2 separate regions of the Homo sapiens genome follow, and region 2 is linked to region 1. Evidence: fine-mapped expression QTL. A gene starts in region 1. The other region holds a variant in brackets. All regions are shown on one strand. Distances are from middle to middle.

The links.
Region 2: its variant is fine-mapped to the expression of TRAPPC12 in whole blood (TOPMed, PIP above 0.99).

The regions. Positions count from the first base shown.
Region 1 is chr2:3,376,452-3,391,971 of GRCh38, forward strand. TRAPPC12 (trafficking protein particle complex subunit 12) reads left to right here and starts at 3,243. Exons shown (of 12, transcript NM_016030.6): 1 at 3,243-3,425; 2 at 11,169-12,219. The coding sequence starts at 11,173. It overlaps EIPR1 (EARP complex and GARP complex interacting protein 1), which reads right to left and starts at 1,367. Exons shown (of 9, transcript NM_003310.5): 1 at 1,197-1,367. The coding sequence starts at 1,238. RefSeq lists enhancers at 871-1,150, 1,171-1,350, 1,371-1,420, 1,692-2,208, 2,209-2,725 and silencers at 1,591-1,650, 3,214-3,263.
Region 2 is chr2:3,431,110-3,447,234 of GRCh38, forward strand. It overlaps TRAPPC12 (trafficking protein particle complex subunit 12), which reads left to right. Exons shown (of 12, transcript NM_016030.6): 6 at 12,670-12,782. Among named protein-coding and RNA genes, the nearest start is that of TRAPPC12-AS1, 44 kb to the right of the region's middle. RefSeq lists an enhancer at 1-28 and a silencer at 2,427-2,677. The variant C/A (reference allele first, on the strand shown) is at 8,396.

The DNA.
Region 1 (15,520 bases):
GGAGGCTGAGGCAGGCAGATCACAAGGTCAGGAGTTCAAAACCAGCCAGGCCAAGATGGTGAAACCCCGTATCTACTAAAAATACAAAAATTAGTCGGGCGTGGTGGCGGGTGCCTGTAATCCCAGCTACTTGGGAGGTTGAGGCAGGAGAATCACTTAAACCCGGGAGGCGGAGGTTGCAGTGAGCCGAGGTCACGCCACTGCACTCTAGCCTGGGCAACGGAGCAAGACTCCATCTCAAAAAAAAAAAAAAAAAGCAGACATCATTTATATCTTTAACACATACTGCTGCACAAAATTATGTATCAAGTATTTCATATGGCAGTGAACTGTGTTTCTATCTCTCTATCTGTCCCTCAGTGCTTTAGGCATAACACATTCTCAAAAGCTACTTGAATAGATGAAAACCAGGACAGGGCTCTAACAGGCCCTACACAATCCTCATCTTCCTCCCCCGCTCATCTCATCCCCTACCTCATTCCCCCTGACGCATTTACTCTATCCACGGCAGCTTTCTTGCTGTCCTGAACTACCATGTGCATTGCTTATGCTCTGGGGGCTCATTCGGTTCATAGTCATTTGTTGAACACCTACTATGTGACAGTCATGAAAAGGCACTGGAAAATACAAGGTAAAAAACTAGTGTGAAAACAGTTGAATCCGAAGACAGTCTGTGGTTTACTGAATATTAGTGTACCAATGTTAATTTCTAAGCTGTGATAAATGTACGATGGTTATGTAAAGTGTTAACATTAAGGGAAGCTGGGTGGAGGGTAAAGAAGAACTTTCTATGTATTTTTACAACTCTTCTAAATACTTTAAATTGTTTCAAAATCAAACATTTTTATTTTAAACAACATACAGTTCCTACCTTCAGGAACTCAAATTCTAGAGGAAAAGGTGGGCGTGTAAATAAATGAGTCCACCAAAGTGAGTGATAACTTCCAGGTCAGAAGTCATGTTCGGGACAGGATGTGAAGGGGAAGGAGGCAGGCCGGCTGTGGCCAACCCTGTTATCCAGTACAACCGTTTAACCTCCTAAAGCCTCAGTTTACTTCTCTGCAAAATGGGAACTAGGGAACAGACACGGGTCCTTGCAGGGCTGGTGGGAGATCTGCAAACCGAAGTCACCATGGGACCGCGCATGCTATCAACAGCCAGGCCGAGCAGCACCTGCCGCCCTCCCAGTGACCCACCTGGAACTCCAGCCCGTAGATCACTGGTGCATCGTCCTCCATGCTGCGGGGAAGCGACCCGACCCCGGCCACTCACACGCTAAGGACCTCGCTACGGCCGGCGCGTCCCCACCTCGCGGGCGTGTTCCCAGCGCCCATTCATTCCCTCCCCGCAGCAAACGACTCCAAACTGGAAGTCTTTCTGGCCCAGAACAGCTTCCGTAGTGGCCACTTCCTATTTTTCGGATGTGTCATCAATCTGTTCCTCACCAGCGACCAATGGCAGCGGCGCTGGCTTGTGCGCATGGCCACTTGGGCTCACATCCGGGCTCTCAGCGCGGGGACTCCTGGAGGTGAGAACCCGGCCCAGAGGAAATAAGTTGGTGGGCGGAGCGGGCCGCGGAGGCCGGCTGTGGGTGGAGGCCGGCTCCGAGCGCAGGCCGTCGGGAGCAAGCGGCGATTAGCCTTAGCTAGCCATCGCATCTAAGAATCGCTCACGCCGTAGTTGGGCGCCGCCATGTATTGTCATTTGTATGTACTTGGCGTTCCTGAGCGCTGGGCCAGCGCTTCACACGCACTGCCATAAGGAGCTTCATCCAACCCTATGAATAAGCTGTTACACTTCCATTTTACCGATGAGACGCTGCAAAGTTGAGTAACACAGTCGCAGCGCTCATTGGTCCATTGGGTAGCCAGGATGGGCACCTGAGCTGACTCCCTTAGGTTCGGCCCAAGGTGCCCTAAGTCAGGGCCATGCCTAATGCATTTCTGCAGGTGCCCAGCACTGTGTGGCAAAGAAAGCACTACCAAGGATGGGGTTATGAAAGCCGGCACCGCACCACTGGTGGTCCTGGACTGCATATGCCTCCGAATGGGAGTCGGAAGGGAAGGCCCTGGGGTTCCTAGAGGTCTCCAAAGACTAAAGACTTGTGGTGGAGAGACTGCCCCTCTTTCGCATCCTGCTCAAAGTGCCTGCCCTGGCCTTGGGCCAGCAGAAATGGCATCGCAAGGACTCCAAAATACATCATAGCTGAACCACGCCGCTAGCCTGGTTCCACCGGGGCTTCCAGGACCACGCACCTTTCCTCCATTTCTGTGATTAGCTTTCCCCTCTACCCTTTATTGATCTCCGTGACGGAAATGGTTGGGTCTCGTTTTGCTCAGTTGGGCAAGGCGCGTGGTATTGAGTTAAGGCTGGATGAGTATCTGTTGAGTGTATGAAATTTTAGAGATTACATGAGAAATCAAATGAGCAGGCCGGGCGCGGTGGCTCACGCTTGTAACCCCAGCATTTTGGGAGGCTGAGGAGGGTGGATCACAAGGTCAGTTCGAGACCTGCCTGGCCAACACAGTGAAACCCCGTCTCTACTAAAAATACGAAACTTAGCCCAGCGTGGTGGCACGCGCCTGTAATCCCAGCTACTCGGGAGGCTGAGGCAGGAGAATCGCTTGAACCCGGGAGGCGGAGGTTGCAGTGAACCGAGATCGCGCCACTGCACTCCAGCCTGGGCGACAGAGCCAGAGTCGGTCAAAAAAAAAGAAAAGAAAAGAAAGAAATCAAGTAAGCAAAAACAAGAAAGAAAGAAATCAAGTAAGCAATGGCCCAGACATGAGAATCATCCTATTCAACCACTCTGTTTGCCGATATTAACTTGCGGAGCTAAGAGGGCCTTCATACTTCGGGATTAAACCCACCCATCTATCACTGATATCTTTATCATTAATTTTATTATACAAGTACTGCAGGTGCATGGTAAGAAACTTACAAAATACAGATAAACACAAAGACAAATCCATAGAAACACTGATTTCTAGGATATGCTGGTCAATAAAAATAGCCTAAGCGACTCCCTTTCACCCGCCCCATCTGCCACAGGCTTGCCTATTGCCTCTGAGTGACAGAATCAGGCTAGGTGGAGTGGAGTCTCCGTTCCCATTTCCAAGTACAGGGTCCGCTCCCCTCAACTACCGGCTCCTGGTTGCCTGTGCGCGTTCACACCTAGGGCTCCAGGCCCCGCCCACAGCAGACGAACCGGAAACGAACCCCATTTCCGGCCTGGGGGCAGGGCCTCGGGTTCCTGCATCGGGCCTGAGCAGAACTAGGCGCGCCGCGGCCCGGCACGCGCAGGCGTACAGAGCTCCCCGGGGGTGCCAGTTCCTCTCCGATTCCCGGCTTCTGTCACCTTCCTCACGGACCTTGGTCACGGCCGCAGGTGACCCCTTAGCCCAGCTCCAGTGGGCGGGTGGCAGGTGAGGATCAGGGCCTCGGCAGTCCAGAGGGGATGGGACCGTGTAGCGCCACCTCGGGGAGGGAGCACACTGGCTTTGGCCTCAGCCCGGAGGGACCTTCTCTGGGACCGATGCTAGAGTGGGCGTGGGGTCCGGGCGCGGGGTCGCCTGCCACCCAAGGGCGTGTGTGCTCCGCGGGCCTTGTGCCAGGCTCCACGTCGCCGCGGCCCTTGCTCTCCACGTCTGCAGAGGGCTGGAAGCGTCTCTGCAGCCCGCGGAGTTTGCGGGAAGGGGAAGCTGCTGCGAAGCGTGTGGGAAACTACCCGCTGGCGCGCGCCCAGGCGTCCCCGAGACCCCCAGTTCCAGGCTTGGTGCCAGCCAGGCCCCCAGCAAGCCCCTTAACTTCCCTTAGACTTAATTCACCCTCCCGCGGAAAGAGGTTACTAATGACCTGCCCTGCCAAACTCAGCATTGTGAGGCTGCAATGCAGTGTAAAAGCATTTGAGTCACTGTGTAAACGTCCGCTGTTGCTACACATACTAATTGTAGAGTATATTTACTGTGAAGACCGAAAAAGCGTTTATTCAACAGAAAGCGTTAGGGTCAAAGATGTGTTTTAACGTGTCATTTTTTCACTCTTCACTACGAAACAGTGTAGCCCCAAGGAAAAATTTTCTTGGACCTACGGTTTGTACTTTTTAATGGCTACTTGAAGATATGGTGTCTTTGGATTCAGTCACTGTTCGCAAATTCAGAAGATAGTGGCGGATAATGAGCCAGTCCCGTCTTGGGATTGGGGTGGGAGAGGGACAGGGGAAAAGCAAATGAAATATTACACAGTGTTACTCATTCAGTTCTTACATTTTGTGATATCTGATGGGATCTTCTTCACAGTTACTAAACTGGGTGTTGCCACTCTGCTTTATCATTAAAATGATAATTACTATGCTTGTGTCTGTGCAGCTCTTCACACTTTAAAAGATGCCTATGCAGGGGTGCCACTATTTAATCCTCTTTATTCTGATGTACCATCTAAAAGATCAAGATTTTCAGAGGTTACTTCACTTGGTCGGGAAGCTAAGACTCAACACAGTTATTGAGACACTGCCTTCAGAGCTCTTTCTGCCCACCCCTGCCTGGCAACCTTGCAAGAGGAGCTGAGAGGTGACCAGCACAAAGAAAAGAGTATTGGCAGAAAGCGCTGTGTGGGTAGCCTGTCACCATCAGGTACTGTCAGTGTGATGTTAGGCAAATCACTTGGCCTTCTCTGCTGTATGATGGAGGTAATAATAATGCTTCAAAAGTTTAGGATGAGTATTAAATAATAAGGTAAAATGCTTGATCTGTAGTGAGTGTTCATTACATGGAGACTTCTGTTAATACGTGCCACCTAGATTTCCACTACACACCCTCGTGCCCTTATGGAAGGAAATTTTACATGACTGCAATTTGGTAAAAGATATGTTTACAGAGTGTCTGTGTCCAGGAAATGAACCTGAGAAACCAAGTTTTAAATGTTGTTAGGAACTTTTTATTTCTCAAATACAGAATTACTTAAATTTAATATTTAAAAAAATTTTAAACAATTAATTAATCACATTCTTGTGCAAAGCCCTCAACTGGACAAGGAGAAAGTCAGATTTCTTTGCTGCACTGTGATGTAAAGCTTCTGTAAGCTTATGTAAGCTTAAAATCCTATTTATAGTTTAATAAAAATAAAGCCAATGATAGGAGGGAGTAAAGATTTCTATCACGTACAAATCAAGAACAGATACTTGTGTTTTTCCATTTTTAATTATGAACTATAAAGACTACCCGTAACACACATGTGAGATTTAAAGATCAAGTCAACCCAGTCTTCCATTACCAGCATAAGATGGGGACCATTTCCCAGTGCGTTGAAACTTCCGTGTGTCCCTCCCCAGTCAAGCTCTCCTGCCATCACCTTCCACCCCTCCCTCACTAAAGTGGCTGTTACTATATCCTGGCTTTTCTTTGTAGTTTGACCAAATATGTTTGTGTTCCTAACACAGAAAAAGTGTTTGGATTCAACACTTTTGTTTAATTTACATGTTTTTGAATATACAGAGTCATGCTGTTTATTTTTCTACTCATTCTTTGTGCAAAATTGTATTTGTGAGATCCAAACATAATTTATATGTTAGATATGGAAGAGTTCACTGATTTTCACCACTATTTTAATATTTTATGTCCTAGTATACCACAGTCTACTTATTTACTTATTATTGTGTCTACAGGCAGTGTTTATTTCCACTTTTTTTTTTTTTTTTTTTTTTTGAGATGGAGTCTTATTCTGCCGCCAGGCTGGAGTGCAGTGGCACGATCTTGGCTCACTGCAACCTCCGCCTCCTGGGTTCAAGTGATTCTGCTGCCTCAGCCTCCCAAGTAGCTGAGACTACAGGCGCCCGCCACCATGCCTGGCTAATTTTTTGTATTTTAATAGAGACAGCATTTCACTATGTTAGCCGGTATGGTCTTGATCTCCTGACCTCGTGGTCCGCCTGCCTCGGCCTCCCAAAGTGCTAGGATTACAGATGTGAGCCACCACGCCCAGCCTACTTTTTCTTTTAGGACTTTAGAAGAAAGGTATTTTGATGTGTTATTTATGAAATTCAGCATCATAGCTTACACTGCTCATGTACAGGAATTCCTCCATGATAGGTATCTAGCAGTGGAATTGCTAGGTCCTAGGTACTACGACCACATATTTATTGTCTCAACCAAGACTCCTTTAAGAGTGAAAGGAGACACTTAATGATTTTACTGAGGCGAAGCACGTGGCTCACGCCTGTAATCTCAGCACTTTGGGAGGCCAAGGCAGGAGGATCACTTGAGCTCAGAAGTTTGAGACCAGCCTGGCCAACATATTGAGTCCCCATCTCTACAAAAAATACAAAAATAGCTGAGTGTGGTGGTGCACACCTGTAGTCCCAGCTACTCCAGAGGCTGAGGCAGGAGGATGGGCTTGAGCCCAGAAGATCGAGGCTGCAGTAAGCCATCATCGTCCCATTGCACTCCCGCCAGGGTGACAGAGCCAGACTATGTCTCATAAAATAATAATACTAATAAAATAATAGAAATAACTTAAACCATGGGTGAAAAATTGAATTGTTCTGGGAAAAATCAAGATGTATAGTTATCAAAGTGATAAGATAATGTGCTTTTTAAACTTTACTAGATAATACCAAGTGGTTTCTCAACATGGATGTTCAAAGGTATACCTCTTTCAGCTCTGTTGCTTATTTTTCTAATGGATCATTTAGTGTGCTTTTATTAATTTGTAGGGATTCTTTATGTATTCTTCGTGTTAATCCTTTCTCAGTTACATTTGTTTGTTTCACTTTTTTTAGGTTTTTAATGATAGAACTTTCCATTTTAATATAGCAGATGTATCCATTTTCCCTTTATGGTTTGTACTGATTATGCCTAGTTTAAGAGGCTTTGCCTACTCTGAAAATATATTCTCTTATATTTTCTTCTGAAAGTTTTGAAGTTTTGCCTTTCACAGTTAATTTTTGATCCCCCACCCCCGCCCCGCCCGAGACGGAGTCTTTCTCTGTCACCCAGGCTGGAATGTCGTGCCTCAATCTTGGCTCACTACAACCTCTGCCTCCTGGGTTCAAGCGATTCTCCTGCCTCAGCCTCCCGAGTAGCAGAGTAGCTGGGATTACAGGTGCCCGCCACCACACCTGGCTAATTTTTGTATTTTTAGTAGAGACGGGGTTTTACCATGTCGGCCAGGCTCATCTTGAACTCCTGACCTCGTGATACGCCCGCCCCGGCCTCCGAAAGTGCTGGGATTACAGGCGTGAGCCACCGCACCCGGCCTTCACAGTTAAGTTTTTAACGTCCCTGAGATTGATACTGTGTCTGTGGTGAGACAAGATTCCAAGTTTATTTTTTCCCAGCTGCATGATTTGTCTACACATCACTCAAGGAAAATCGTCTCTTCCTTTGATGTGTGCTACATATTCCCTTGTGATAGTTCAGTCTTGTTTTTTTTTTTTTTTTTTTTTTTTTTTTTTTTTTTTTTTTTGAGATGAAGTTTCGCTGCTGTTGCCCAGGCTGGAGCACAGTGGTGCGATCTCGGCTCACTGCAACCTCCGCCTCCTGGGTTCAAGTGATTTTCCTGCCTCAGTATCCCAAGTAGCTGGGATTACAGGCGCCCTCCACCACACCTGGCTAATTTTTGTATATTTAGTAGAGACAGTGTTTCACCATGTTGACCAGGCTGGTCTTGAACTTCTGACCTCAGGTGATCCACCCTCCTCGGCCTCCCAAATTGCTAGGATTACAGGCCTGAACCACCGTGCCTGGCCCAATATTTCAGTCTTTATACCATAGATTTTTGATGTATTCTACATAAATAATCATACACGAAGAATGAAGGTTTGTATTTTTTTCTTTTCAGTTTTTATTGTAGCTTTTAGTTATTTTTCTTGCCTTAATCCTGCCCGAGGACTCCAGTATTAGGCAGCATAAAAATGTTGAAGAGGACATCTTTATCTTTTTTCTACTTTTAAAGAGAATGCTTTAAACGTTTCACTGTTAATTTGAGGTTTCCTTTAGGTTTTTGGTAGATACCTTTGATTGCATTAAGGAAGTTACTTTCTGTTGCTAGTTTGCTGACAGGTTTTATCTTGAGCAGATGCTGAATTTTATTAGATACTTTCTTGTGCATCTATTGAGATAGTCATGTACTTTTATTTAATCTATCGCATTAAACCAACAGTACATTTCTGGGATTACCTGAGTTTGGTAGAAAATAAATACATTGCTGATTCAGTTAGCTAATATTTCAAGATTTTTGCATGTGTGTTCATGAGTGAGATGATAGCTTCCCTTTTAGTATGGCCTTGTCAAATTTTGGTCTCAAGGTTATATTAGCCTTATAAAGTGAATTGGGTCATGTGTCTTTTTTCTTCTCTGCAAGAATTTTTGTACTGTAGGAATTATCTGTACGGAATCTTTGGTAGAATTCACTGGTAAACCCTCTGGACCCTATATTTTCTTTGTAGGAAGACTTAACTACTGGTTATACTTTTTTTATGGTTATAGAACTATCTCGTCATATATACATGGTTATTACTAGTGTCTGCTTTGCATTTGAACCTTACATTGGAATAAGATTAGAGTAAGGAAACCCTTGAAGTGAAGAAGCTATTTTGCTACAAATTATATGTCCATTCTCACAAAATCTTATGTATATAATTTATATAGATGTAGCTTTATAATATATGTATGTCTTCCCATTCATAAAAGCATCATCTAAATCACGTTTTATATCATTTTTATTTGAGCATTCCTCTTGATTTTCTAGAGAAGAAACCCTCAGATCCTTACTTACAAGCATTTTCCTGCATCTAGATTTTATTTGTGTGAAAGCAAAAGTGATCATCCTTGCCCTAAATTATTAGGGCTTTTTATTACTTTGGTATTTACTTAAGAATAAAATTTATTTTTTTATTTTCTTCTCTTCTCAAAAGTGGTTTGCAGGTATTAATGAAAATTTTGGACATTCCCATTTTATCAGTTCTCCTTAATTTACAATTTATAAAGTTTTTAAGCTTTATAATTTAGAAGCATTTTACCTTAATTTTTATTATTTTGGTGGTTTTTCTAGGCGATGTTTTTTGTTATTATATCTCTGATAAACAGATTTCCCTAAATCTTACAGGTTTAAAGCAGCTTCATCTTCACAATAGTAAGAATTGTTTCTTTAAAAAGTTTCTTCACAAAGGCAATAAAACTTTTAAAATCTGTGAGATTGAATCAGAATTAGCTTTAGAACCTAGAATTTTGTTAGGGCTGAGGGTAGATGAGACGGAGGGAAGATCCCTTTCTCTCATCATTAGCTTATATCGAAATCAATTCTTATTTCTAAAATAAAATACGCAGACCACGCTAGTGCCTTCAAGTCCTGCTGGGAGACTTCAGAGGGGGCACTGCCTCATGCTGCCTGTTTGCTCCTTGTGCCCGGCCTCTATCCCTGCACAGGAAGGACCCGAAGGAGCAGCCTTACCATGCACAGGGGGCTCCCCCTTTGGGGTTCTAGGGCAATTTGTTCTTCGGGCTCCCGGTGAAACATGGCAGGAAAAAAAACGTTTTACTCCTTTTCATTGGATTTTTTATTCATTTATACTTAACAATTATTGGATGAATGTATAAGGGAATTAGTAGCTGACCAGGCTGAACCGGAAACTTCTTCAAAATGTATAACTTGGATTATGTACTTTAAAATAATGTTTTGGGAAGGCTGACTCATTGGGAATACTATGATGGAAGTGTTGACAGTGAGAAAAGGGTAGTCTTATCTAGAGATCAGCTAAGTGTCATTTTTTAAGTAAAAAAGGTACGTGTTGTTTTATTCTGAAAAAAATCCCTTATCTTTTATCATAGTCTCTTAGATTTCCTTAACTTGAATTTGTTCACTATGAGAGTAAAACTACATAAAGTAAAAGTTTTTCAAGAAAAAGAACAAATACTTTTTTACAGTTTGAGCTCTTTGTCTCATTCTTTGGCTGGTCCTGGTTTCCCCACTCACTAGCGGTGTGATTTCGGCTTACATAGCCTCCCAAGGCCTCAGTGTCCTCATCTGCGAAACGAAGACAGTGATAGCAGCTGTCTCGAGGGGTGTTCTGAGAATCACACAGGCATATGTATATATAGCCAGGGGCATAGTATGTGCGGATAAATGTTAGCTAGTTGTGTTGTCAGCTTCAGCCATCAGTGCTTAGTGAGTGTGCTGTTTTCTTACTGTTTAAATTTTTCATGTCATTCGCACTGTATCAGATTTCCAGAGTCAGGCAGATAATATGAGCTGGGGCGTGGGGCGGGGGTAGGGGCGGACGGCATGGGGAAGTCAAGAGACTATTACAAATTGAAGAGTCTTGGGAGGGCTTCATGGAAGAGGAGGGACTTAGCTGACTCTCAGAATGAAGTAGTGTTTATATGGCTGGAACCTCACACCTACTGGAATGGCTACTATGAAATAAAAACAAAATAACAAGTGTTGGCAAGGATGTGAATTCCAAGGCTTGTGCACTGTTGGTGGGAATGACAAACGGTTCAGCCACTATGAAAAACAGTTTTTTGGTGCCTCAAAAAAATTAAAAATAGAATTACCATATAATCCAGCAGTTCCTTCTAGGTATTTACCCAAAATGATTGAAAGCAGGGTCTCAAAGAGCTGTTTGTACAGCCACGTTCATTGCAGCAGCATCCACAATAGCTAAAAGATGGGAGCAACCCACGTGTTCAACAACAGATAGCTGGATAAACAAAATGTAGTGTATGCATACCATGGAATATTTTTCATCCATAAAAAGGAAGGAAACTCTGACCAAGCTGTAGCATAAATAGCCCTTGAGGACTTTATACTGAGTAAAATCAGCCAGTCACAGGAAGACAGTTATCGGGTGATTCCACTTATTTTATAGTAGAATGGTGGATGCTCTAGGCGGGGGAGATGGGTATACGGGGGAATGTTTAATGGGGATGGAATTTTAGTTTTGCAAGATAAAAAGTGTTCTGGAGATTGGTTGCACAGAAATGTAGATGTACTTAACACTACTGAACTTAAGGTGGTCAATTTTATGTGTATTTTACCATAATCAAAAGCACATGGATAAGAAGCTGGAGAAATGGAAGTCTGCGTCATTTGAATCTATAAGCAATACTCATTTTTCGGTTGAGGTGAATGAAGATCACGCTCAGGGGCCTTCTCTCTGTCTTTGCTTTCAGGGTCATGGAGGACGCTGGCGGCGGCGAGGAGACCCCGGCCCCGGAGGCCCCGCACCCCCCTCAGCTCGCGCCTCCGGAGGAGCAGGGGTTGCTCTTCCAGGAGGAAACCATCGATCTTGGCGGAGATGAGTTTGGATCCGAAGAGAACGAGACCGCATCGGAAGGCTCGAGTCCTCTCGCGGACAAGCTGAACGAACACATGATGGAGAGCGTCCTCATCTCTGACTCCCCCAACAGCGAGGGCGACGCGGGCGACCTGGGCCGAGTGCGGGACGAAGCTGAGCCCGGAGGGGAAGGCGACCCAGGCCCGGAGCCCGCGGGCACCCCGAGTCCCAGCGGCGAGGCCGACGGCGACTGTGCCCCCGAGGACGCGGCACCCAGTAGCGGAGGGGCCCCGAGGCAGGACGCGGCCCGCGAGGTCCCAGGCAGCGAAGCCGCGCGCCCGGAGCAGGAGCCTCCCGTTGCGGAGCCGGTCCCGGTGTGCACCATCTTCAGCCAGCGCGCGCCCCCAGCCTCCGGGGACGGCTTCGAGCCGCAGATGGTGAAGTCGCCCAGCTTCGGTGGCGCCAGCGAGGCCTCGGCCAGGACACCGCCCCAGGTCGTGCAGCCCAGCCCCAGCCTCAGCACGTTCTTCGGAGACACGGCCGCCAGCCACTCCTTGGCCTCGGACTTCTTCGACTCCTTTACTACCTCCGCCTTCATTTCCGTCAGCAATCCCGGCGCGGGCTCCCCGGCCCCCGCCAGCCCGCCTCCCCTCGCTGTGCCCGGGACCGAGGGGCGCCCCGAACCCGTGGCCATGCGAGGGCCCCAGGCAGCTGCGCCCCCGGCGTCGCCAGAGCCTTTCGCGCACATCCAGGCAGTGTTTGCAGGGAGTGACGACCCCTTTGCCACCGCCCTGAGCATGAGCGAGATGGACCGGAGGAACGACGCCTGGCTTCCCGGCGAGGCTACGCGTGGAGTCCTGCGGGCCGTGGCCACCCAGCAGCGCGGCGCCGTGTTCGTGGACAAGGAGAACCTCACCATGCCGGGCCTCAGGTTCGACAACATCCAGGTGAGCCCGGGTCTCCCACCTCCGCAGCCCGTGCCTCCTCTCTGCGTCTGTGAGATACGCACAGTGCCCCTTTAGGGATGGAGAAGGAGAAGGCCTTGTTTTCAGTAATTCCTAACATCCCATTGTGAGCGCCTGTGTTCCTCTGTCCCTGGGTAATTAGGGATCTGTTGGTTTCCCCAACAGAACATATTTAATGGACTGCTACTCAGAGAGGTAGAAATAAATACCACCAAGGCAGACAGTTCTACCGTAATTCTCTCAGTCAGTTCTCCATGTCCTGTAATCCATTTGACATTTGAACTCCAGTTAATAATAAATCCATTTCTTTCTTTAAAATATGGAAAAATATATTCCTGTAACATATAATGTGCCCGATGTAGAATTTTTATAGGTTGAATAAGAAAAATACGCGTGACCCAAAAAGTAACAAATCACAGAAATATATAAATGTTAAGCTAAATGGTAACATACAAATGTTCGATCTCACTACTAATGAAAGACAATTGATGCAGGGTTTTTTTCGGTGCCGCTTTGCCAGCTGGAGACCTCCGTGGTCGGCGATGCCCCTGCCCAGGCCTCTCTCGGCCCAGGTTCGCCCACTAGGCCTGCCGGGCCGCACCTGGCTTGCGCTTTGGCATATCCCGTGGCCTCGGTGACTGTGCTCTCAGCCCCCAGCAGGTGGGTTGTGCGAGCAACTGAGTGTAGGGGTCCGGGGGCTGCTCCAACCGCCAGCATAGGAGCAGGCTTCACACGGGGCTTGTAGCTGGACCAGGCGTGTGGCAAGTGACTCCCACAGTGGACTCCTGCGTCCAGGCGAGGGGAACACCGTGGCGCCCGAAGAGCAACAACCGCGACCCCGAAGCCCGAGAGGGGATGTTACAGCGTGCACACAGCTCTTTTCGACCCGCATCTGCTGCCGGACTAACGGGCATCTTAACGGCTCTAAACGGGCGCATTAACAGACCACTGCTTCCCGTTGAGTGGGGCAGCCGAAGGGGGTGGGGGATGGAGGGTTACAGTGTTATTGCTGTCTTGGTACCTGCACTCCGCGGAGTCCTGAGTTCTTGTCCTGCCTCCAAGAAGAACGAGATTATGCCGACAACCAGAGTGTGAGGAGGGCGGACGAGTTTTATTGAGCACAAAACAGCTCTCAGCAGAGAGGGGAGGCGAGGGTGGTCCCCCACCGAAAGTCAGGTGGTGTCTCTCCCAGTGTGGCTGGCTCAGGGGCTTTTTTGGGCTCAGAATGGAGGGGTGCATGCTGATTGTGAGTATGCAAAAAAGAAGGCTAAAACAAAGTCACCACTCAAAGGTGGGCACGACAGTGGAAAAAACCAGTTGGGGAAGGGTAGGTATATGTAAAATAGGTGAAGAGGGGTAATCAATCAGAGGAAAGTGCTCCACATGGGACGAAAGGTTCTCAGTCCCTTACGTGGGTTTATCCGGGACTTGCAGCTAGGCTTTAAACTGTCTTCAGTTCCAGTCAGGTTTCACCGGGGACCGCCCCTGTCTGCCTAGGATTTGTCTGCCTCCTGCTGCCATCACACTCGAGTCATTTCCGTTTCCATTTATCAATCATGATCTACTGTTTGTTGAAGTGTGGGAAAATAGCCTCTCTAAGGCAGCCCAGATGGGACCAAAATCAGTACAAACATATTTAAGTAAATTTTAAAATGCGTATCAAATGTGCATATTCTTTGACCCAGAAATTCCACTCTTAGGAATGTATTGTGAGGACATAATCATACTTCTATACATATACCAGCTGTTGAGATGTCTATCAGGGTGGTTTGTAATTGCAAAGAATCTGAAATAATCTAAAAGCCCGTTATTAGGAGGCTTGAATACATTTGACTCACCTCATCTTTGCAATGGAATATTTATGTAAGTTTTTAAAATGATGCCAGGGGTTAGGGGGAGGAAGGGATGAACAGGTGGAACATAGAGGATTTTAAGGCAATGAAACTATTCCGTGTGATACTTTAATGCTGGGTACATGTTGTTATTTATTTTACCAAACCCATGGAAAGTGCTACACCAAGAGTCTACCCTAATGTAAGCTGTAGACTTTGGGTGACAATGATGTGTCCATGTAGATTCATCAGTTGTAATAGGTGGACCACTCTGGCGAGGTGCGTTGATCATGGGGAAGACTGTGTGTGTAGGGGGACAGGCAATATATGGAAGATCTCTATACCCGCTTAATTTCGCAGCAAACCTAAAAGTCCTCTAAGTAATAAAATCTTCCTCTGATCATTGGTGAATAATAATATAAATAAATTGTAAAATCTATTTTTAAAAAGATATAAAACAGAATATTTAATGAGGTTCATCTCATACTGTTAAATTTGAAAATCAGGACAGAAGATAGCATGTAGCATGCATAGTATGATAAAATTTTTATAAATATATGTATACATATGTATCAGATTAAATCATATGCATGTCAGTTTTAGTTTATTGCAACCAAATTGTGGGACAGGATTAGTAGTTTCCATATGGCACTGTACATGACGGGGCGCCCCACCTCCCAGTTACTGGCCTCAGATCCTGTGCGTGTCTGTCTTCCTGAAACTGAAAGAAGGACCTACAGCCCCCTTTAGTGCAACCACTTACCCACTCCTGAACCCACTTACCCACTCCACTCTCACTCCTGAACACAAATAGGTAAGCCAATAAGCCAATCGTATGACTGTGACTATTGCTATTGAATTGATAGATGGCTGAGACCTAGGAGTGGTGAATTCTCCAGGAAAAGAAAAGTGACATACTAGAGAAATGAAGCCAATTAATTTTTTCAGATAACTGAAGTGTAAGCCTATAGACATCCGTATTTTGGGTGTTTTACGGGCAGTCTTTCCAGAATGTTCATTGACTAATTTACTAATATTCATTTACTATACTTATTGTGTGTTTACTCTTGACCAGGCATTGGTCTAGGCATTCTTCTCTACCCTCTTAGGCAGAATATACTGAGCATAATTTAACCTTTGCAGGATCTTTTTAATGAATACCAATTCCGGACTCTGATGTCAGGGGTATTTGGATGTGTGGGATTGGATTTATTTGTCACTGAATTCTTACCTGTACTCCCACTCCCTGGTCTTGTCTCTGTATCCTGTCCCCCCAAGATGGCTTTCATGTTCTGCTCCATGTTTCTTCCCTTCTCTCTCGGGGTCTTTGTCCTCTCTGCTGTAAAATTCCTTTAACATCTGTGGGTCTGGCCTTTAGCACTTTCTTTCAAACCCTCTGTTGCTTGCCTTGCCGTTTGCTTCTCCCTCTGACTGTAACTCAGAGGAAATCT
Region 2 (16,125 bases), 55 kb after region 1:
GCAGAGCCCCTCGTGCACACTTGTCAAAGATGCTCTCTCTCCTGGCATACCCTTGAGGCCCTAGGCCACCTGCTGCCCTCGCCGTCTTCCATCGAGTACAGTGGGATGCACTTAACGTGAGTGCTCCCGGGATCTCATCCCACAGAGTCTTTGGCCCTGTAGACAGACAGTCTCTGTAATCTTGTAATCTCCCCACAGCACAGCCGTCTGCCTTCACTGGCACCTCAGCATCTGCAGGGAGCATCCCGGTCCCAGGAAACATCATCCAGCCCAGAGGGCGGCAGGGTCGCCGTCGCCATGGATGCCAGCCTTTACCCAGCACTAAAAGTATTTTTGTTTTTGTTTGTCTTAAATGTTGATAACTTCATAATAACTATTTACGTTAGGGCTTTAAAATACCTTTCCAAAATCCTACAAAGTTTCTCTTTTGAGAGCCATTCTTCAGATCCCTGTACTAGCCTTCTTTCTTTAATTTTCTTTTAGATTTTTTTTTTTATTTTTTAAATTGTTACACTAGTGCAGATTGTTTCTCCCATTATAGGGTTTGCAGTCATGAAAAGTGTTGATAGGGATTATATCCATGAAAATATTTCTAGAACATTCATTCATTTTATATTAACAGCTTGCATTGGTGTGGTACATTTGTTACAATTGATGAACCAGTATTGGTACAGCATTATTAACAAATGTTTATAGTTTACACTTGGGTTCACTCTTGTGTTGTACATATTCACTATGTTAAAGAAAATTAAATGTCCATTCCTGACAAGTTTAATTTCATCCTCTCTCAGGCAGTTAAATTTTTCCAGACCCCCACCACCATCTTTTTAATCTGTTGTTTGGAATTACCCCTCTCGTTCCAAAGAAACATTCACAATGGCAGTGAGCATGTAAACTTTCATAGTGCTTTGAATTTTTAAAGTACCACATTCTGCATTAGATTGCTCACTTCAAGTTTCCATGCAACTAGAGGGAAAATAGGAGCCCAAAAGATCTTCCCGCTGGAAATAAAGCAGCTTGATTATCTTCACTATGCAGTTTAAGAAGTATAGTGCTGCTTCTAATACTAAATTCAGATCTGCATGTTTAGACTAAGTTACAAGAGCTGTAATGACGTCACAGGAAATGGTACTTCAGAACTTAATCCGTGCGGATTACCATCAGGTCAAATTAAAGTGGATGGGGCAAACACTTCCATTAATCGGATGCCGAATCTCTCTACTCTTCCATCAGCTGTCTGCTCCTCTATGTGCATAAAGGCACACTGTCACTGGATCTTTCTTCCTTTTTCATCCTCCCTCCAAAATCATGAAATTCACATTTTGAGTTCTCAAATTAAATTCTGAAACTTTTTTTTATCAACACATAACCATATGTGATATCTCAGAATTAAATATTCAGCATGTTTCCAGTGTCGGATTTTATTTTTCATGACAAAATTACCTCACCTTGCAGAGTGACCACGTTCTGCTTTAGATTTCCAGGTCACAATGCTTTGCATCAGAACTCCCGAGCGTTGATGGTTGGACATGTGATCGCTGCTTTATTTGTTCGGAGAAGGCTCGTTAGTTCATCTTACTGCTTTTCACTTTGCCCACCGTTTTTATGAAATCTGGCATTTTCAGTCTTTTCTTAGAACAAACTACTAAAAATAGGGGAATTTTCAGTTTGGGGTTCCGTATCTACCATGAGAACACCCAAATGGAGACCTCTCCTTATCCTGTCTGCACAAGATACAGGCCTTGGCCAGTCACTGGGCTGTAGCTGAAGCCACACGTGGATTGCACATGACTGTGGCAGACGCGTACAGAGGCAGTGACCCAAGCCTCAGTTTGTCTTCATGCTTCAGGGCTTTAGTTAAGCAAATCATTTAAATAAGAAATATTTAAGGTATTTTTTTCTCTTAGGACTTTCTCACTGTTTTTGTGTTTGGTTTGTTTTGTTTTGTTTTTAATTTACAATGCCACATTAAAGTCAAAAATGACTTGTTGAGAGCTGTAAGTGTGACACTGTGTGCTTGGCCGGGCACAGACACCAAGCAGTATCCCCAGCGTTGAGCACAGGCAAACCAAAGGCATGGCTTATCCTGCCTGCTGAGGTCAGGATAGGGAAGGACACACCCAGACAGGCAGAGACAGTGGGAAATAAATACAAAGCAGTCTTCCCAGCAAAGCACTCGCGTAACTTGAAAATGAGACGGAAATGCCAGGGCAAACTTGTAAGTTTGTGCCTTACTGAAGAAAGCTGTTAAAATTGGGCAAAGGGTCTGGAAGGCTCCCGCAGACCCTTCTGTGAGGCAGGTGGCACAGGCGTCCAGGCATCATGTCACACCTGCTGCGGCCTCACGGCAACCTAGCTGCCTCTGGGCCCTCCCGCCCTAGTTTGCAGTGACACAGAAGGCTGCAGAGAGGATGTGAGCCACCCAGCACAAACAGCTAGTGAGTGGCGGAAGGTAGCATACCCCACTGAAGGGAAGCTGAAATGTCATCTTTGTTCCCTTTCATTTTTCACTGCCCAGCACCAAGGCCCGGGCAATTCCTGGCACATTTCTCTTTTCTATAGTGGCAGCACGGATTTTCAGCACAACAAGGGACGGTCTGAAATAAATTTTGTAGGAGTATTTTCATTTAATGTTTTCTAAATGATGAATGAGAACACTTCTACAGTATTTATACCAACCTAGATTTTGGCAGGTCACAACTATACATGGGAATCTTCCGGAAAAATAGATCCACTAGGAATTGTTTTTCCTTACAGATTTTGACTAGCTTCTCCTTTTTTTTTCCTTTCCAATGCTCTTTCTCCCTGCAGGAGAGAGACGGGCCTCAGGGCTGGTGTGGAAGCCTTGCATATTTTATCTCGCTTGACAACCACCCTCAGCATGGAGGATTTCAGTGAGATTCCCAGGGTAGCTCTTCAGAGACAGGGGCTAGGTTTGGCCACTGAGAGAATCAGCTTAAAGGTATTTTTATGTGCATTTACTTAAGAACAAAAGTATGAATTACACCAAAGCAGCTTCTGTATGCATCTTGTTGAAGAGGGGAGTAGTTTCCTTGAGGACACGGACCTCGTGGCTGTCATTGTGTGCACCCAGTGCAGGCCCTCCTGCGCAGCGCTAGGAGCTGCTGAGTAAATGTCAGCTCAGTGAAATTCACACACCTTACCTGGAGCTCACAGATGGTTTCTCCAGCTGCTTCCATTTATTGTTTTAATTCTGTGATCTATATATTTTTTCTAGGAAGGGGTGTTTTTCTTTCTGATTTAATTCCCTACATTTTTCTCTTTCATATGAAGTTGCAGATAATGTTTTTCCTTCGGATTTTTATTCTTTAAGATTTTTAACCTGTGCAAGACTTTTTCAATGATACAAGTCAAGGAGGATGAAGATCTTTTTCCACTTCAGTCTTCACTTTGCTCCAGCTATTGCTAAGAAAGGCACAAACAATGACAGCATATTTAAGGAAGAACCTGGCCGGCTTGGGTCACCGCTGCTGTCTTTCTTGGTTTTGCGTCTACCTGGGAGAGCCCAGCTTTTAGGTTCCCATTGAGGGAAGCATGAGAGAGGATTGTTTGGGGGATGCTGCCAGAGCTTCCAGCTGACAGTCTCTGCAGAGCGGCTGCCAAGTGGCCTGGTGGCCGTATGTTGGCAGTTTTTGATGAATTGGGATTAGGGAATGTTTGTTTACTTGATAACCGAGTGTCTACAAGGAGAGGTGGCAGCGTGAGGGAATAGTGCCACCATAATGAGGACACAGCCAGCCATCTCTTCCCTGCCACAGAACCCCAGGCAGTCCCCTTCAGGCTACAGTTTTCCATCTGGACCGAGGGACTGGCCGGTGCAGCAGGAGGAGCCGATCACCCTCTGTGGCAACGAGGATGCCCAGAAGTTCCAGTTACTGTGGTTTGTATGTTCTTCTTTTTGAGATGGAGTCTCGCTCCGTCGCCCAGGCTAGAGTGCAGTGGTGCGATCTCGGCTCACTGCAATGTCCACCTCCCACATTCAAGCAGTTCTCCTGCCTCAGCCTCCCGAGTAGCTGAGATTATAGGCGCATGCCACCACGCCCAGCTAATATTTGTATTTTTAGTAGAGACGGGGTTTTCGCCATGTTGGCCAGGCTGGTCTCTAACTTCCAGCCTCAAGTGATCTGCCCGCCTCAGCCTCCCAAAGTGCTGGGATTACAGGCGTGAGCCACCGCGCCCAGCTGAGTTACTGTTAACTGTTACTGGGGGGGCAGGGGAATGGCTCATTAACATTTTTTTAAATAACATTAACATTTTTAAAATGTTAAAATTTAATTCTGAAAGAATTTTGCTACATTAGCGCTAGTTTTAATTGTGATTTTATTCAATATGTCCCCCAAATGTAAGGAAGAAATTGGTACATTTTGTTCACAAAAATATCCTCCCCACCTCCCAAAAGCAGTAGAAATGGGAGTGCCATAGCACGGGGGAGATTTGAAAAGAGCCCGGAAGTTGGGTTTGTTGGAGGAGGAGGATCTGAGCACAGCTCAGCTCCACCTGCTCCAGCAGCGCAGAGTCCACGAGTACAAGCAGGTGTTTGGTCCCCAAGGCCTCACAGAAGTTCAGGCAGAATTTCATCACTTTCTTTTCCCTTAACCCCCATTTAGGTTTTAAACGCCTGTGTGGTTTTTAAAAGGGTAGAAGTAGCAAGGAAACAATATATATCTAATGAGGGACATTTTCCTGTGTGATATGTAATGAATGCACTATATGTAGTACTAATTACCTGTTATAATGAAGGCACTGTATAGTACCGATTACCTGTTTTAATTTGATCCTAAGGAAGGTCAATGTGCATTTTGAGGCATTATAAAAATATAGTTGATATTACCTGATAACCTTTGAGTTAGCGAATTTTAATTTCACATCAGTAAGGTACTGTTTTAGAGCAGTGCTTCTCCATCTCAGCATGCACAGGAGTCACCCAGCCTCTTGTGGAGGGCAGGCCCTGATGCAGCAGGTCTGGGCAGGGCCTGAGACTCTGAAGTTCTAACAAGGGCACAGGTGATAAGACTGCAGCTGGTCAGAATGTACCTTTAATCAAGTATTAATATTACTCTTTCAGCTACAGCTGGCCACTATATTTAATAGTATTTCTGAGAAAAAAAATACATATTTTAAGTCTCAATTTGAGATCCCAAGAACACAGTCCTTCACCCCAAAGAAATGGATCTGATTTTATCTTTTTTCATGTGGCAATCCCCATATCTGAACCATGCTCATTAAAAACTCCATTTTCCATCTAATACCTTGGAGACACCATCTTTATTGTATACTAAAGAATATATGTATTCCCTTTTTGTAATTTACAGAAAAATCGAGTAGAGAGTTCTATATACCCTCTTTTCTTCTGCACAGTTTTTAATAACATCTTGCATTTTTATTATTAATAAGTATAAAAATTTTGCATTAGCGTAGAACTTTTATTATAATTGATAAACCAATAGCGGTACATTGTTGTTAAAGTACATAGTTTACCTTAGGGCTCACTCTTGGTGTTGTCCCTTCTGTGGGTTTCAACAAATTAATGGCGTTGCGTGTTCATTGTACTGTCATGCCGAATAGTTTCACTGCCCTGTGTATTAATCCCCCCACCACCCCTGGATTAATACCCCCATCACCCCTGGATTAATCTCCCCACTACCCCTGGATTAATACCCCATCACCCCTGAATTAATCCCCCCATCACCCCAGGATTAATACCCCATCACCCCAGGATTAATACCCCATCACCCCTGGATTAATCTCCCCACCACCCCTGGATTAATCTCCCCACCACCCCTGGATTAATCCCCCCACCACCCCTGGATTAATCCCCCAATCACCCCTGGATTAATCCCCCAATCACCCCTGGATTAATCCCCCCATCAGCCCTGGATTAATACCCCATCACCCCAGGATTAATACCCCATCACCCCTGAATTAATCCCCCCACCACCCCTGGATTAATCCCCCAATCACCCCTGGATTAATCCCCCCATCAGCCCTGGATTAATACCCCATCACCCCAGGATTAATACCCCATCACCCCTGAATTAATCCCCCCACCACCCCTGGATTAATCCCCCAATCACCCCTGGATTAATCCCCCCATCACCCCTGGATTAATGCCCCATCACCCCTGGATTAATCCCCCAATCACCCCTGGATTAATCCCCCCATCACCCCTGGATTAATACCCCATCACCCCTGAATTAATCCCCCCACCACCCCTGGATTAATCCCCCAATCACCCCTGGATTAATCCCCCCATCACCCCTGGATTAATACCCCATCACCCCTGAATTAATCCCCCCACCACCCCTGGATTAATCCCCCAATCACCCCTGGATTAATCCCCCCATCACCCCTGGATTAATACCCCATCACCCCTGGATTAATACCCCATCACCCCTGGATTAATCCCCCCACCACCCCTGGATTAATCCCCCAATCACCCCTGGATTAATCCCCCCATCACCCCAGGATTAATACCCCATCACCCCAGGATTAATCCCCCAATCACCCCTGGATTAATCCCCCCATCACCCCTGGATTAATACCCCATCACCCCTGGATTAATCCCCCCATCACCCCTGGATTAATCCCCCAATCACCCCTGGATTAATCCCCCCATCACCCCTGGATTAATACCCCATCACCCCTGGATTAATCCCCCAATCACCCCTGGATTAATCCCCCCATCACCCCTGGATTAATACCCCATCACCCCTGGATTAATCCCCCCATCACCCCTGGATTAATCCCCCATCACCCCTGGATTAATACCCCATCACCCCTGGATTAATCCCCCCACCACCCCTGGATTAATCCCCCAATCACCCCTGGATTAATCCCCCCATCACCCCAGGATTAATACCCCATCACCCCAGGATTAATACCCCATCACCCCTGGATTAATCCCCCCATCACCCCTGGATTAATCCCCCAATCACCCCTGGATTAATCCCCCCATCACCCCAGGATTAATACCCCATCACCCCAGGATTAATACCCCATCACCCCTGGATTAATCCCCCCACCACCCCTGGATTAATCCCCCAATCACCCCTGGATTAATCCCCACCACCCCTGGATTCATCCCCCACCACCCCTGGATTCATCCCCCCATCAGCCCTGGATTAGTACTTCCACCCCTGGATAAATCCCCCCACCATCCCTGGATTAACCCCCATCACCCCTGGATTAGCCCCCATCACCCCTGGGTTAGCCCCCATCACCCCTGGATTAATACTTCCACCCCTGGATTGATCCCCCATCACCCCTGGATTAATCCCCCATCACGCCTGGATTAATACACCCACTACCTCTGGATTAACCCCCATCACCCCTGGATTAATACCCCCACCAGCCCTGGATTAATCCCCCGCCACCCCTGGATCAATCCCCCCAATCCCCCTGGGTTAATCCCCACCACCCGTGGATTGATCCCCCCTCACCCCTGGATTAATCCCCCCATCCCCCTGGGTTAATCCCCCATCACCCCTGGGAGCTTGGAGTCTTTCCATTGTCTCCATAGTTTCCCCTTTTCCAAAGGTCTTATAGTTGGAATCATACAGTATGTGGTCCTCAGATTGGCTTCGTTCACTTAGGAATGTGCATTTAGGGTTCCGCTGTCTTTTTCTGCTTGATAGTACGTTTCTTATCTCTGAATAATATTCCATTTTATGTATATACCATAGCTTATTTATCCATTTCTCTGTTGAAGAACATCTTGGTTGCTTCTGGTTTTTGACAATTATGAATAAAGCTACTATAAACATTCTTTTTCAGGGTTTTGTGTAGATACAAGTTTTATCACCTTTATCAGTTCCAATCCTTGGGTAAATCTCTAGGACTGTGATTGCTGGATCTTATGGTAAAAGTATTCTTAGCCTTGTAAATATCTGCCAAGCATCTTCCAAAACTTTCATACTATTTTGCTTTCCTAAGAGCAATCAATGAGAGTTCCTATTGATTCACATCCTCAGCCAGCTTTTGGTATTGTCATTTTTTGGATTTTTCGCTATTCTGATAGGTGTGTAGTGTTACCTCATTGTTTTAATTTGCAGTTCCCTAATGACATATGATGATGAGCATCTTTTTATATGCTTGTTATTGATAAATCTTTATTGGTGATATGTCTGTTCAGATCTGTTGCCCATTTATTAATTGGGTTGTTTTCTCATTGTCTGTTTTTTGGAGACAGAGTCTCACTTTGTCACCCAGGCTGGAGTCCAGTGGTGCAGTTATGGCCCACTGCAGCCTCAAGCCCCTGGGCTTAAGCAGCCTTCCCACCTCAACCAATGGAGTAGCTAGGACTGTAGGCACACCTGGCTAGTTTTTGTATTTTTTGTAGAAACAAAAAAAAGCGATCAGCTCGCCTCAGCCTCCC[C/A]GCGTGCTGGGATCCCAGGCATCAGCCACCATACCTGGCCTGTTGTTGATTTTTAAGAATTCTTCATATATGTTGAATACAAGTTCTTTATCAGATAGGTGTTTTACAGCTATTTTCTTCCTATCTGTGACTTGTCTCTTCATTACTTTAATACTACGTTGGACAGAGCATACGTGTTTAATTTTAATGAAGTCCAACTTACTGATTTTTTTCTTTCATGGATGGTGTTTTTGGTGTTGTATCTAAAAGATTATCAGCAAACCCAGGTCACTCAGATTTTCATCTGTGTTCTGTTCTAGAAGTTGTATAGTTTTTGCACTTTACATGTAGTCTGTTATTGGAGTTCATTTTGGGGTAAGATGTAAGATCTGTGTCTAGATTCATTTTTTTTTTTTCATGTGGACGTCCAGTTGTCCCAGCACCATTTTTGGAAAAACCTGTCCTTTCTCCATTGAATTACCTTTATTCCTTTGTCAGAGATCAAACTGACTATATTTGTGAGGACCAATTTCTTGTCTTTCTGCTCTGGGCCACTGATCTATTTGTCCGTTCTTTTTCTAGGACCACACAGTCACCCAGTCTTTTTTACAGTAGCTTTAGAGTAGCTCTGTAAGGTGGGTAGTGTCAGCCTGCCAGATTTGCTCTCTTTGATATTGTGTTGGATGTTCTGGGTGTTTTCCTTCTCCATATTAACTTCAGAATCATTTTGTTGATAACCACAAAATAATTTGCTGAGATTTTGATTGGGGCTGCATCGAATCTGTAGGTCAAGTTGTAAAGAACTGATATTTTAGCAGTATTGTCTTCCTGTCCATGAATGTGGAATATCTCTTGATTTCTTCAGCTCTGTGAATTTTTTCATCAGAGTTTTATAGTTTTCTTCCTATAGCTCTTGTGCATATTTTGTCCATTTTATACGTGGGTATTTCACTTATTTATGTAGAAATGATAGTGTGTTTTTAATTTCAAATTCCCATCATTTATTGCTAGTATCTAGGAAGCCAGTTGACTTTTGCATATTGATCTTGTATCCTGTGACTTTTAATCACTTCCTAGTTTAGAAGTGTTTTTGTTCTTTGAGATTGTTCTTTATAATTATGTCATTGCAAACAAGTAGTTTTATTTCCTTCTTCCCAGTCTGTGTACCTTTGGTTTTCTTGTCATTGCATTAGCTCGAACTTCCAGTACAATGTTCAGTAGAAGAGATAAGAGGGAACATTGTTGCTTTATTCATGATCTTAGGGGGAAGTCACTGAGTTTCTCACTCTTAAGTTTGTTGTTAGCTGCAGTTGTTTTGTAGATGTCCTTTATTAAGTTGAGGAAGTTTCCCTCTATTCCTAGTTGGCTGAGAGTTTTTATCACGAGCTGGTGCTGGATTTTGTTAAATGCTTTTCTACATCTATTGATATGATTTTTGTTCTTTAGCCTGTTTGATGTGGTAGATTATGTTAATTGATTTTGGAATGTTAGATCACCCCTGCATACCTGGAATAAATTCTGTCTGGTCATGGTTCATAATTCTTTTTATACATTGTTGGATTTGGTTGCTAATTTTTTGTTGACTTCAGTTTTCTTAGATTTAGTTTGCTAATTTTGTTGAAGATTTTTGCATTTATGTTCATGAGACATATTGGTCTACAGTTTTTTTTTCTTGTAACGTCTTTGTCTGGTTTTGGTATTAGGGTAATGCCAGACTCATATAAGAAGTTAGAAAGCGTTCCTCTGCTTCTGTTTTCTGAAAGAGATTGTAGAGAACTGGTAGCATTTCTTCCATAAATGTTAGGTGGAATTCACAGTGAGACCATCTGGGTCTGGGGCTTGCTTTTTGGAAAGGTTTTTCTTTTTCTATCCAAGTTACCAAATGTATGGACATAGAGCTGTTCATAATATTCCTTTACTATTCTTTTACTGTTCATAGGATCCATAGTAATAGTCCTTCACTTCTAGTACTAGTTGTTTATGTCTTCTCTGTTTTTTGACTAGCCTGGGGAGAGACTTATTGGTCTTGTCAGAGTTTTATTGGTCTTGTCAAAGAATATGTTTTTGGTTTGGTTGATTTTGTCTATTGATTTCCTGTTTTCAGTTTCACTGATTTCTGCTCTAATTTTTATTATTATATTTTTATTATTTTCTTATTATAATACAATAATATTTTTATTATTTTCTTATAATAAAATATTTTATTTTCTTATAATAAAATAATATTTTTATTATTTTCTTCTCTACTGCTTACTTTAGGCTTATATTGCTCTTTCTTTCCTTCTAGTTTTCAAAGGTGAAGCTGGTTTCAGATCTTTCTTTTCCAATATATGCATTTAATGCTAAAAAGCTTCCTCTCAGCACTGCTTTTGCTGCATCCCACAAATTTTGATAAGTTGTATTTTTATTTTCACTTAGTTCAAAATATTTTCACATGTGCTTTTACATCCAGAAGCACCCCCATGTCCATGGGCAGTTGTCAGGATAAGGGGCAGCTAACTTTCTGCCACCTTCTCAGGTGAAGTGGCAGGAGTCACACAGCCTGTTTTCTCACCATCCACCAAACTGTATTCCAGATCGGAGTATTAACAGCTAGTCTATAAATTGAGATCGGAGTATTAACAGCTAGTCTGTACGTTGAGATCGGAGTATTAACAGCTAGTCTGTACGTTGAGATCGGAGTATTAACAGCTAGTCTGTAAACTGAGATCGGAGTATTAACAGCTAGTCCCAAGTTGGGTTTGAGAACTTCCAGTAGAGGTTTGTTTCTGTGCTTATCTTATAGAGCTTGAAGGGTTCTTGAGATATTCTCTCCCTTGTGGTAAGTGATAAACCACACAGGAGTGATTCTGGCCCCTTCTCTACTTGAGACAGAAGGATGGAAGTGACGTGGCTTACATATAACTTACCATGTTGGGCCGGTTCCACAGTGACATGACTTACATATGACTTAATTGTAGGCCAGTCCCCTGTGTCATTATGCGGATGGTCTAGAAATGTTTATTTCTAGAAAACCGAAGTGACTCAGGCTGTAACTTAAGCTCGGCCAGATATTCTCTTGAGATACAGAAATTATTTAGTGGCATCAAAAAAGAAAGTTTAAACATTTTAAGTTCAATAATTGTTACCTTTCTTTTCTCCAGGCTTATAATCACAATAGAACTGTTTTCCATAGTGTTCCTTAATTTTGACTGTCTTCTTTTTGGACCTTTGTTATTAAAGACCATAAACATAAAGCTCATTTCAGTGTGGTCACGGCCCATTCTCAGTAATGGTTAATGAATAGACAGATGGATGCATTGAGGCACAGATACATTAAGTGGCTTGCAGAAGTCATACGCGTGTTTTCTCACCATCTTTCAGACTATATTCCAGATCCGAATATTCATCGCTTAGGCCTATTTTGAAAAGCACTTTACTGAATCTATGTGATTGCCCTCTGGCATTTCTCTATTCTTTATCTCATTTATAATCAGTGCACGCTATTTGATTTTTTGATGATTGTTATCTACTTAGTATACATACTACAGATCAAATTCCAAATCCTATTAGAAGAGAACACAATATTAACAAAAAGTTGACCTTACCCTGAGAGATGATGCAGCCACAGGTGATACGATATAAAGGGGGTTTCTCCTGAGCTTCTTCCTCTTCTTAGCGCACGCAAAGCCAGGCAGCTCTGGGTGATGGATTTTTCAAGTCCAGCTCCCTTGCCTCCTGTCAGAGGTGGAACGCAGGCTCCAGGGCCACATGGAATCCAGTGGGAGGCCCATCCCCAGGGCCGAGGCCTGAGACGCACCTGTGCTCAGTTTCGCCTCCTCCCCACTGGTTTTCCCGGGAGCACTTCCGGAACCACTGGCTGGCTTACGGCTTCTCCCTTCAGGGTCTCCTTCTGGGGAACCCAAGCTAAGCAACCTACCATTCGAGCTTGCTAAACTAAAGAAATATTAAAGAATATCTGAGCATTCTGGTTTTTCTTTTATTGGAGGAGGGGTTGGCGGTCTCTACTGTTTCATTCATTTTGGGATCATTTCTAAATGATTGCAGTGTAGCTTTGGAAATTGTGGTGTCATCCACCTGTCTCCTCTGATAATTGTCGAGACATACATACATAGAGCTCCATAGAGAAAACCAGCATGTATTTTATAGTTGACACCGTTAAATACTTCACAAGAAATAAAGGGATCTGTCATCACTTCTGCTGGGACATCTGCGACGCCTCCTTCAAGTGTGCCAAGTATGAATGCGTGCTCAGTTATGGCAAACAAACTCACTCAGCACTGATTGGATTCCAGGCTCCATGGTCCCCTTCTCGATGCGCATCTTGCACGCGGAGCTTCAGCAGTACCTGGGGAACCCACAGGAGTCGCTGGATAGACTGCACAAGGTGAAGACTGTCTGCAGCAAGGTAGGTGGCGCTGTCATTCTTCCCTGCCACGGGGAGAACATGCCCTCCACGCCCTCCCCACAGGACATGCCCGTGCTGTTCCCTGCCCGTCCTGCCCCATGCACCATCGCTGCTTCTGCCTTCAGAAGGCTAGGTGACCCGGTTTGTGTGGCCTGGTAGTCGTGTCTCTTGCTGAAATCTTTTTTAGGGATGGTAAGAGTTTCTAGCAGAGCTTGAGTCCTGTAATTCTTACTGCCTGGTACTATGGGAAGCTGAAAGGCAGAGACATCTTTCTTGCCAAGGCTGCCAGCTGAAGCTTCAAGGTCAGTGTGCCAGACCACCCCTGTGTCCCACAAGTGCCCACACGCACCTGCCACGTGCAGACAGAGGTACCGGAGCAGTACTGAAAGCAATCATGGTTTAAGCTTTCAAATCCAAGTAAGTGCTTCTGCATTATGGCAACTGTCACTCATGATCCTGACTGCAAAGGCAGAGTCGGAGTGTTTTCGGACTCATTCTTGGTTGTGAAGTCACAGTTAATGTGGGAGCCACCAAAGTGGCACGTTATTACACTAACTGACATTGGGAAGAAATGTGGGACTCAGAGACTTTGCTGTCTACAGGTTGTTATAGAGTATTCATCTCAGATTAGGAATGATCCTGCCTTTCTACCCACGTCACAGTGTTCCTGTATAGGTTCAGTGACATAAGGTATGCGGAAGTACTTTGAAAACTACAACAACAAGCAGTTATTAGGAGCAGCAGCATATTATAATTTTTGGGAAAACTAAGATTCTTCTTGTCAGATTCCTCCTTTCACTTCCTAACTGTTGTGGTAGAAGTTTTGCGGAGTTCCAAGATGATGGTGTTAACAGTGTTCCTAGTAAGGAAGGAAGGGGCCCTCTTTATCCTTATCTGTGGAGAAAAAACAGGCGTTTCTAGGCCCCTTGTTGTCCTGGGCTTTGTACCCACTTCCATTTTTTTATTACCATAACTTAAAAGATAAAAAGAAAAATTGTTTGCTTTCTGTACTATATCAGTTGATGGAGAATCATGTTACCAACTTTTTTACATTTCAACACTTTTCTTGAATCTTAAAACGGGGTTTAATTTTATTTACAGAAATCGGAAGCACATAACTTGAAATTGAGAAGTTCTAAATCAGTGACTTTCTAAACTATACGAATTTTTCATTATCCTCCATGTCACATTGTAGGAAATCTTTATAGTATTTGAGAGAGAAAATTCTGGGCCATAGGGTGATTTGTGGATGGAAAAGCCAAGTTAGTTGAAGTAGTTTTGCAAGTCAGCTTTCCTGGTCCTGTTATGTCCTATTTCAGAATTATGCTCCTTAAATGCATACTACAGGCTGGGTACAGGGGCTCATGCCTGTAATCCCAGCTACTTGGGAGGCTGAGGCATGAGAATCGCTTGAACCCAGGAGGCTGAGGTTGCAGTAAGCCGAGATCAAGCCACTGCACTCCAGTCTGGGCAACAGAGCAAGACTCTGTCTCAAAAAAAAAGAAAAACTGCATACTACAGTGTAACGATGAGAGGAGCCACTTAGCACTAGCTATGAAGCAGCAGGGACGGTGGAGCAGAGAGCAGGAGCTTCCCACACCGCTGCTCTGGGCACCTGCACTTACTCCACCTGACAGACACCTTTGTTGCATTCATTATGAGGCAGCCACTGCTCTGAGTTCCAATATTAACTCATTTAATCCTTATCACAACCCTATGAAGGAGATGTTATTATCCCAATTTACAGATGGGGAAACTGAGGCACAGATAGGTTAGGTAACTTAGGATCACATGAGTTGAACCCAAGTCATCTGGCTCTAAAGTCCATGCTCTTCATCACTTGCCTGGCTTCATCACTATAACATGTCCCGTTTGAAGACAGAAGGACCGAGAGTCCTCTCTTCCACCCTGCACCAGCATTTCTGCTCCAAGAAAGGACAGTGCTGTCCGGGGTCAACTGACATCTGCTCAGAAGACCCCTGTGCTGAATGGGGCCCTGCCCCTTCCCCCTGACTGATGCCTGGAGATGGGCTCGAGCCTGTGCTCTGCTGGGCTGGGCCCTCCTGAGACTCTTGAGGGGGCTTCCAAGCAACAGCAGTTGACAGCTAAGCATCGTAGGGTTGGGGAGAAACGAGAAGGGTTAGTGCAGTCACATCCTAGGAACGTTTCTCTCAGGCTGACTGGGCGTGGGGCCACCGTCAGTGAGAGAGCCACTCATGCTTCTCGTTCCCTCCGCTGGTCTACAGTTCCACCTGCCTCTCATCTTGTGAATACATAACCGCACTTCAGGTATCTCTCATGTTTAAAGATACATATCTTTTCCATGGCATGATCCAAATCTAAGCCAACACTCCTTATGGTACTTAAATGAGGAAATCGCAATTCGTTCTAATCCTGGAAGAAAAACAAGCAGTTGGATTTATGAAAAGGTGTGTGTTGGTCTTCACCTTAAAGGATTTTCACCGTTAATTTCAATATGTAATTACTATGTGTTCCTTTATGTGCTGACTTAAAATTTGACACCCTCTTGAGAGAGAGAGCTGCACTGTGGCACAGCTGGTGGATGCCTGGACCAAGAGGGAAAGACCCAGGGCATGACCATATAGTCAGCCTTGCCTGTCCGCCACCTTTGGCAGGAGAAGAAGCACCGTCGCCAACTTCCTCGCTCACTTCCTTGCACGTTAGGGGCTCATGGCCGCATGTGGGCATTCTTGACCTTTCTGCGGCTGGTTCAGTGTTGAACTGAAGCAGTTTTTATCTGGATGTGAACAGTGGGCACTGCGGGGACATGGAGCAATGCGTCTCCACGCTGTCCAGAACAGCTCTATCTGAGCTTGTTCATTTGTTCATGCAGCAAATGCCCTTTCAGCACCTACTGAGTACTGCACACTGGCAGTTCGGGACTCAACAGAACGCAGCCTCGCCCTCAGTGAGTTTACAGTTTGGTAGACGATGCTTGTTTCACCTGTTCCTTTTAGGTTTGCAGCCATCACCAATACATCATGATCCTCCAGAATTTAAAAAGGGACAGTTTGTGTTCATGCTAGAATTTCTTTACTCAAGAAGTGTGTATTAGTCCATCTGGCTTTGCCATAAAGGAATACCCGAGGGTGAGTCATTTATAAAGAAAAGGTTTATTTTGGCTCACAGTCCTGCAGGCTGTACAAGAAGCACAGTGTCAGCATCTGCTTCCAGTGAGGCCTCAGGAAGCTTTTTTTTTTTTTCTTGAAGCGGAGTCTCGTTCTGTCACCCAGGCTGGAGTGCAGTGGCGCTATTGGCTCACTGCAACCTCCACCTCCCAGGTTCAAGCGATTCTCCTGCCTTGCCTCCTGAGTAGCTAGGA